2 linked regions of the Homo sapiens genome follow. The protein of the gene in region 2 interacts with the protein of the main gene of each other region in a biochemical or structural test. Each region holds a gene or a part of one and is shown on either strand. Other genes may lie near its edges.

What was found.
Region 1: of the proteins of MYH9 (region 2) and TRPM6, one has a biochemical effect on the other in vitro, tested with the Homo sapiens proteins (one study listed by IntAct).

What each region holds. Positions count from the first base shown.
Region 1 is NC_000009.12:74,886,242-74,889,987, forward strand, and holds the start of TRPM6 (transient receptor potential cation channel subfamily M member 6), read right to left. Parts: upstream 1,681-3,746; 5' UTR 1,616-1,680; coding exon 1,583-1,615; intron 1,480-1,582; exon of another isoform or gene 1,408-1,479; coding exon of another isoform or gene 1,390-1,407; intron 1,107-1,389; exon of another isoform or gene 1,008-1,106; coding exon of another isoform or gene 990-1,007; intron 1-989. UniProt on the Homo sapiens protein: Bifunctional protein that combines an ion channel with an intrinsic kinase domain, enabling it to modulate cellular functions either by conducting ions through the pore or by phosphorylating downstream proteins via its kinase domain.
Region 2 is NC_000022.11:36,283,222-36,286,967, forward strand, and holds part of MYH9 (myosin-9), read right to left. Parts: intron 3,687-3,746; exon of another isoform or gene 3,626-3,686; coding exon 3,497-3,625; intron 2,733-3,496; coding exon 2,644-2,732; intron 2,561-2,643; coding exon 2,437-2,560; intron 2,109-2,436; coding exon 1,900-2,108; intron 1,291-1,899; coding exon 1,182-1,290; intron 1,045-1,181; coding exon 872-1,044; intron 1-871. UniProt on the Homo sapiens protein: Cellular myosin that appears to play a role in cytokinesis, cell shape, and specialized functions such as secretion and capping. Required for cortical actin clearance prior to oocyte exocytosis. Promotes cell motility in conjunction with S100A4.

The sequences.
Region 1 (3,746 bases), on a different chromosome or scaffold from region 2:
GGTTACCACTCCTGGTGGGAAACATAAGAAACAACCAGATTCTTAAAGTCAAGCCCAGATTCCAGTCTGGCCAAAATAGCTAACGCTTTATCAGTCCTGTAAGAACCCAAAGCAGATGACAGTGAAACATCAAAATCTGTATACAGGGGGAAAGAAATTGAATAACTCGTTTCCCACTTTAACAATTAAAGGTGATCATTTCTCCCTAGAACAAATAATCACAAATGATGTGTATGACTAGAACATCTATGTTCTCAGTGTCTTTTTTTCTCTTTTTTTTTTTTCTTTTTTATGTTCTCCGTGTCTTAAAGCACTGACCTGAGTTCAAATCTCAAATCTGCTTTTCTCCTTTGGTTTCATTTTCCTCACCTGTAAACCGGTGGAGATGGGAGAGACAGGATACTTGGACTTTATAGGATTACTGCCAGGATGAAATAGTTAAGAATCCCAAACTCTTACAACCTGCTAAATACGTCAGGCATTATTCTAAGTGCAAATGGCATGTAGCATTTCAATTCATCTTGAAACTACAAATCGTATTATCCCATTTTCCAGATGAGAAAGCCGAAGAACAGATGTTAACTCGCCCAAAATCACAGGTAGTGATGCAGCTGGGATGCTAATTCAGGCTACCTGGCTCCAGAGCATATGTTCTTATCAGAGCAGGCTGAAATGAGCTAACGTTTGCTAAGCTGCCTGGACTATTCCTGAAATACAATGTGCTCAATTATACTTATTTTTCATACACAGTGTGAGAAAGTCCAGACAAAATAGGCGAGACCAAGAAATTACCAGGATCTCCACTACTCTCCCAAGCGTCTCCAGTGCTCTCCCAACAGCCAGGAGCACCCTCCCTCTCCAAGCCCCCAGAACTTCCTGTTGCGCCATATGCCAGCGGTGGAGAGGAGCCAGCGGGGACTCCTGAGGTTGCAAGTCCGGGCGGCGCCGCGTTGGGGAAGGAAGCGGACTGCGGCGGGGCGGGTGTTTACCGTAACCGGCGCTGTCATCGCTCCGGGACTCCTGCACGGGGAACACTGGGCGCACGGGGACGCGCAGGGGCGCGGAGGGACGGCCGTCTGGGCACTTCTCCAGCCGCCTCGGAAAGCCGCGACCCCCGGCTAGTCAGCGTCCGGGTCTGAGATCTGTGCCCGTGGCAGCTCAAAACGCGCCTTCTCTCCTCCGGATTCTCAGCTCAAGCCACCTCCGAACTCCTCTCCCTCCGGCCCGGAGCGGAATCAGAGCTGCCTCCTCTCCCGGGGTGTTTCCCACCGCCCCGAGCTGAACCCCCGACCCCCGCTAGGTTTCCGCTCTGACACCACCTCCGCTATGGCCGCATCCCAGCTCTTGAAACGGGGGCTGCGGGACCTGCCCTGTAGTAGCGTACACTACCTTAGATAGGATAATCATCTTTGGGTGGAGACCAGAGAACTTGAAAGCCGGTATTTCATAAATCCTAGCTATTCTAGATCCTCGTTAGATGTAGTGTCCCTGGCCCCACCCACTTCTATCTAAGGCCGGGGGCGCAGATCTAGCGAATCGCCTAAGGTCCTTGTTCCCCGCCAGTCGAGCAGCCTGAGCTTACCTGCAAGCGCTCCAAGACAGGTTGTTCTTTCATCTTTGATTTGCAGGCCCTGCTCCCAAAGCCCTGTCTGAGCTTTTAACTGTGGAGGCAGAAACTCTGGGCTCCACCTCCACACGCTGCCTTTTACAGCCCAGTGGATCTGTCACAATACCTTTCGGCTTCAGTTACCTAACTGCCTAGAAAAGAAGGTGACTCTCAGTTTCCTTCGATAAAAGAAGAATAACGAGGATCAAATGGGATGGCCACTGTCATCACAGACATCCTTTGTAGTAATGTATTGTTACTGTTGAGTCAGTGTGGGGCGTGAGGAGATCAGAGATTTAAGCTAACGCACTGCTTTTACTACCTGTGACTTATTGGGCATGTCAAGCCTCAGTTTATTTATCTATGCAATGGGAATAATAGGGACAAAAATCCAGTTCCCTCACAAGGTTACAATGAACAAAGGAAATCACTTAATGTGCTTCATGTGTAACATACAATACAAATGTTTTGTTATTTCTGGTTTTTTTTTCATTTTTTTTGTTTGTTTTGTTTTGTTTTGGTGGATTCCTCTGGATAGGCATCTTCTCTTTCTTTCTTTCTTTCTTTCTTTCTTTCTTTCTTTCTTTCTTTCTTTCTTTCTCTCTTTCTTTCTTTCTTCTTTTTTTAGAGATGGAGTCTTGCTCTGTTGCCCAGGCTGGAGTGCAGTGGCAGGATCATGGCTCACTGCATCCTTGACCTCCCAGGCTCAAGTGATCCTTCCACTTCAGGCTCCAGAGAGTAGTTGGGACTACAGGCACACACCACAGTGCCTGGCTAATTTTATTTATTTATTTATTTATTTATTTATTTATTTATTTATTTATTTTAGAAATGGGGTCTCACTATGTTGCCCAGGCTGGTCTCAAACTCTGGACTCAAGCGATCTTCATGCCTCAGCCTTCCAGAGTGCTAGGATTACAGGCGTGAGCCACCATGCCCGGCCTAGGCAGTCTTGATTAAGGTTGTGGTCAGTGATTTGGGGTGGATCCCAGGGTGTTGGCAGAGGTGGCACAAAGCACACAGGCAAAATGATGCTCACATTATTACAAGTGTAATTAACAATGCTAGTCATTCATCCCTGACAACCGACTTAAAATTAGGGACACCTACTCATTTAGTTTATTATGAATTTTTGCCTGGTGAATTCACATTTGCAGACAGTTTACAGGTTTTTTCCCCTCATTTCTCAATGTGGTTTTAATAAGCATTTCTTTGTTTATTGGAAAATTGTAATCTCTCATATGTGTATTGGCATTTTGTTGTTTTTCTTTTTGTTGTTGTTGCTGTTGTTGTTGAGCCAGGGTCTCGCTCTGTCACCGGGCTGGAGTGCAGTGGCACTATGTCGGCTCACTGCAACCTCCACCTCCTGGGCTCAAGCAATCCTCCAGCCTCAGCCCCCGCAAGTAGCTAGGACTACATGTGCAAGCCACTACACCTGGCTAATTTTTGTAATTTTTGTAGATACGGAGTTTCACCATGTTGCCCAGGCTGGTCTCGAACTTCTGAACTCAAGCAATCCACCCACTTCAGCCTCCCTAAGTGCTAGGCATTTGTTGTTCTTCTATAAACACATTTAATCTCCTTTCCTCTCCTTAACCCATCTTCTTTAAAGCGTTAATCTGTAAACAGTTAACAGGTTCTGAAAGCTCTTCTAAGGCAAGTAAATCCTTCTCGATCTCTGTCTTCCATACAATTTCTTTGTTAGGTCTCTTACAGTGACTGGGTCAGAGAGTTCTCAGAAATCTTCAGACCCACCAAGAAGAGTAGCCATTTGGAACTCAAGATTTGTAAGAAGTCTACCATCTTCTAGTTTACCATCTTTGGTAAACCTACATGTTAGGATGATCATATATTCTTTTCAGATCAAGCTTCAAGGCATTTAGAGCCTGAAATACAAGGGCAATGTGAAGTGCTTAAAGCATTGAATGTACTAGTTTACAAGCTGCCTTTGGTTCCCAAGCTGTATCAGAAACATCTGAGGCATTTGTCAAAAGTGCAGATTCCCAGGCTCCAACCACCCTACCCAGATCTCTTGTATCAGGATTTATAGGGTGGGGCCCAGGAATCTGTATCTTTCACAAGCACTTTAATCAGTTGTCAAACTTGTATATAAAACTTCTTGTCCAGGCATGGTGGCTCA
Region 2 (3,746 bases):
GACTACTTATGCTTACAAAAAGAGCCCCATGAAGGCCTGGCACGGTGGCTCATCCTTGTAATCTCAGCTCTCTGGGAGGCCGAGGCGGGTGGAGCACCTGAGGTCAGGAGTTTGAGACCAGCCTGACCAACATGGTAAAACCCCGTCTCCACTAAAAATACAAAAATTAGCCGGGCATAGTGGTGCATGCCTGTAATCCCAGCTACTCCAGGGGCTGAGGGAGGAGAATCGCTTGAACCCGGGAGGCAGAGGTTGCAGCAAGCCGAGATTACACCATTGCACTCCAGTCTGGGCAACAAGAGCGAAACTCCGTCTCAAAAAAAAAAAACAAAAAAAATAAAAAAAACACGTAAACACATAAGAAAAAAACATGTAAGAAATGAGTATCTCAAAAAACACAAAATGAGAGTCTCAAAAAACCCACAAAAAAACACGTAAGAAATGAGAATCTCAGAGAATAAGATCCTCTGCTTCAAACATTCACTACTTCTTGAGTGTTAACACTCCCTGAGAAACGCAAAGGAGCGTTTTTAACCTCTGTAGGCATTGCTCATGAGGCTCACATTCGTTTTGCAGATATTTAACTGAGGCACCTAACATGTGCCAGGACTGGGCCAGGTGGCCTCAAGCAACTTCCAATTCAAAAGACAATAGACTTTTAGGACAGCTGGGAATAAACTACCTAGAGTTTACTGTGTGTTCAAAACACTAAGCTAAAGCCTCAAAGGCAAGGAGCCAGAAGGGGCAGGGATTGCTTTGTGCAGTCCTTTCTTGGTGACATTCGTGCCTTGCTTGTGGGCTCTGGTTGAGGAACAAGCTACCTTTTGAGAGAAGTGCCGAGGCAAAGGGGCGGGTGGGCAGGGCGGCTCACCTGAGCTTGTTCTTTAGGGAGCTGACTTCGCGGTTCATGGCATCGGCCGTCTCAGTGGCGTCCTCCAGCTCGCGCTGCAGTTTCCGGCGGGAGGCGTTGGCCCGCTGGGCCTCCTCTTCGGCCTCCTCCAGCTGCCGCTTGAGCTGCTTCAGGCGGGTAGATGCCTTGTCGGCCTGCGGAGATGGACGTGTGGCCCGTGGCCCCGGTTAGGGGCTCTGGGCGTGCAGCCAGTCAGCCCCACTGCCCTGCCTGTCACCCCATCTGCTGCCCAGCCCCGCTGCCCTTCTCACTGCCCCACCAGCGCCCACACCTGGTCCTTGTACTGCTCGGCGTTCCTCCGCTCGTCATCCACCTGCAGCAGCACATCCTTCAGCTTCTTCTCGGTCCGACGCACCTGTTTGCAGGCTGCCTGGCGCTCCCTGCATGACAGACAAGGTGGCTCAGAGGGAACACCCTCCTTCAGAGGGTCCGGCCAACAAGCCCTAACCAGGACCACCCATTCCCCGGGGCTCACTGGCATCTAGGGATCACGTAGGGAGGCCTTTGCTAGACACCTATGTGTACCCGGCTTCTTACGACGGGCACTGCAAATAGCCCCATTTACAGATGAGGAAATGGGCTCAGGTAAGGGAAGCGACACACCTCAAAGAGCATCTATGTAACTGGAAAAGAGGTCTGGGGGCCTACTGTAAACCCCATTCCCTCCAAGGAAGTCTCAGTCCTGCTGAGCCCATAGGACAACTGTCCTAGTGGGCAGGACCCCCCTGTACCTCCTGCTCTGATTCACTCTCAGACACAGCCACCAAAACTCCTGGCTTTAGAGGTGGAACAGAGAATCCTGTTCAAACCCCACAAGCTCCCCCAACCACCCAACCTGTGGAAGGGATGAGGGCCCCATCAGGAGGGAGGGAAACAGCCCCAGGCTCAGGAGACAGAGAGCTGGTTGTGGCCCAGATTTGGGCAGGACTGCAGGGGGGCCAGAGTTTTTTCCAGGACAGCTGGGGTTGGGCGGGGCCAGGGGCACGTACTTGGTCTCGTTGTCCAGCTGCTCCTCCAGCTGTGCAATCTTGGCCTCGAGGGCGGTGATGGAGGCCTTGTACTTGGACTTGACAGTGCCCTCCATCTCCTGCAGCTTGACCTTAAGCTCCTTGTTCTGGCGTTCCAGCTGCTGCCGAGCATTCTCGTTCTTCTGGGCGTGGCTGCGCTCCAGGTTCAGGTCGGTGTTGATCTGGTCGATCTGCAGAAGAAGGGCCAGTGACCTTGGGGAGGGCTGGGGCCCTGGCTGGAGGGCATGAGCAGGGCCAGAGGAAGGTGGCAGCAGGATCCCACCAAACCCTTGGGGTCCAGAGTCTTGGGTCTCCCAGAAAAGGGAAGATTAGAAACTTCTGAACACCCAACACAGAAGCCAGAGGGGGACCTTTCAGGTCCAGGTGCCTGGACATTTTCCCCTAAGCGCCTGGGGAGCAGCTGGCACTTGGCCTGTGCTTCTGCCGGCTGGGTCCAAGGCCAGCTCTGCCGTGGTGGCTCCAGCCAGAGCCCAGAGTGGGAGAAGTCCTGGCACCCACCTGCAGGTTGGCCTTCTTCAGCCGGTCGTTGATCAGCTCCGTGTTGCCCTGCTCCTCCTCCAGCTCCTCCTCCAGCTGGGCGATGCGGGCCTCCAGACGCCGCTTCTCCTCTAACGCCAGGGCTCTGCGGGGTGGGCGGGAGAAGTGAGGGGCCTACCCTGGGGACACACCTGGTCCCCCCCAACTCTGCCCCCTCACTCAGCTCACCCTTTGCCGCTGCTGTTGGCGATCTCGTCAGCCAGCTCATCCCGCTCCTGCTGGGCCTGGCGCTTGGCACGCTCCGCGGCTGCCAGTTCCTGCCACAAAGACCCAGAGTGTGACCTAAAGGCAGCCACAGCCCCACAAGACCATCCTTCCCAGCCCCAGGCACCCTCCCCTCAAGCCCTTCCCCAGGCCCACCTCCCCACGAAGCCCTTCCTCCAGAAACCCTCTAGCTCACAGGGCTGGTGCCCCCCTGAAGATATAGCTTAAACACCATATGTTTATAAAACTCTTACATTTAAGTGCTAGGAATCAAGCCAGGTGCCAGGGTATGGCGATAAGTAAGAAGTGTCCTGGCCTAACCAGGGAGACCACGTGGACAGAGTCACTCAGGGCGGCCCCTCCCTGTTCTGGGTAAGCCAGAGCTTGGAGTCAGCTCTGGAGGCCACAGGCAGATGGCTACACCCTGGACGCACTCGCAGCCGGCACATCACGCTGCAGGGCACCCTCCAGACCTGGGAAACACTTCAGGACGGGCTCAGGTGCGACGGGCAGGGCGGCCGAGGGGACGCTCAGACCCCTTCTCACCAGGCAGCATTCACAGCAGGAGGTGGTGGTGGCCACAAAGCCTCATCTCATGTGAGGGATGCCAGTTTCACACACACACACACTCTGATCATACGAGGGAGCCCCGCTATGAAACGGAACCCTGGAGGGAATCCTTATGTAACCTGAGAGCCATCCCCAGCCAATTCCTGGAGCCCAGTAGGACTCCAGCCCTGTCCTCAGCTGAAAGCCCCACGCTGCCACCTGCTGGCCGCAGGGCAGCGGTGCCGCTCTCCATTGCAGCCCCACCCACCTCCTGCAACTGGATCATCTCGGCCTCCATGCTCTTCAGCTTCTTCTCGTTCTCTTTGGCCTGGGCCAGGATCTCCTCACGAGAGGCGCGGGTGTCATCCAGCTCGCGCATGCAGTCCTTCATCTGGGCCTGGGGTGGGGACAGAGGCTTGGCACCCCACCCAGCTCCTTGGCCCTCCACCCCAACCCTCATGGGTCACCTCGCCAACAGGGCTCATGGCTGGTGCTCCACTCAATGCTGTATTTAACCA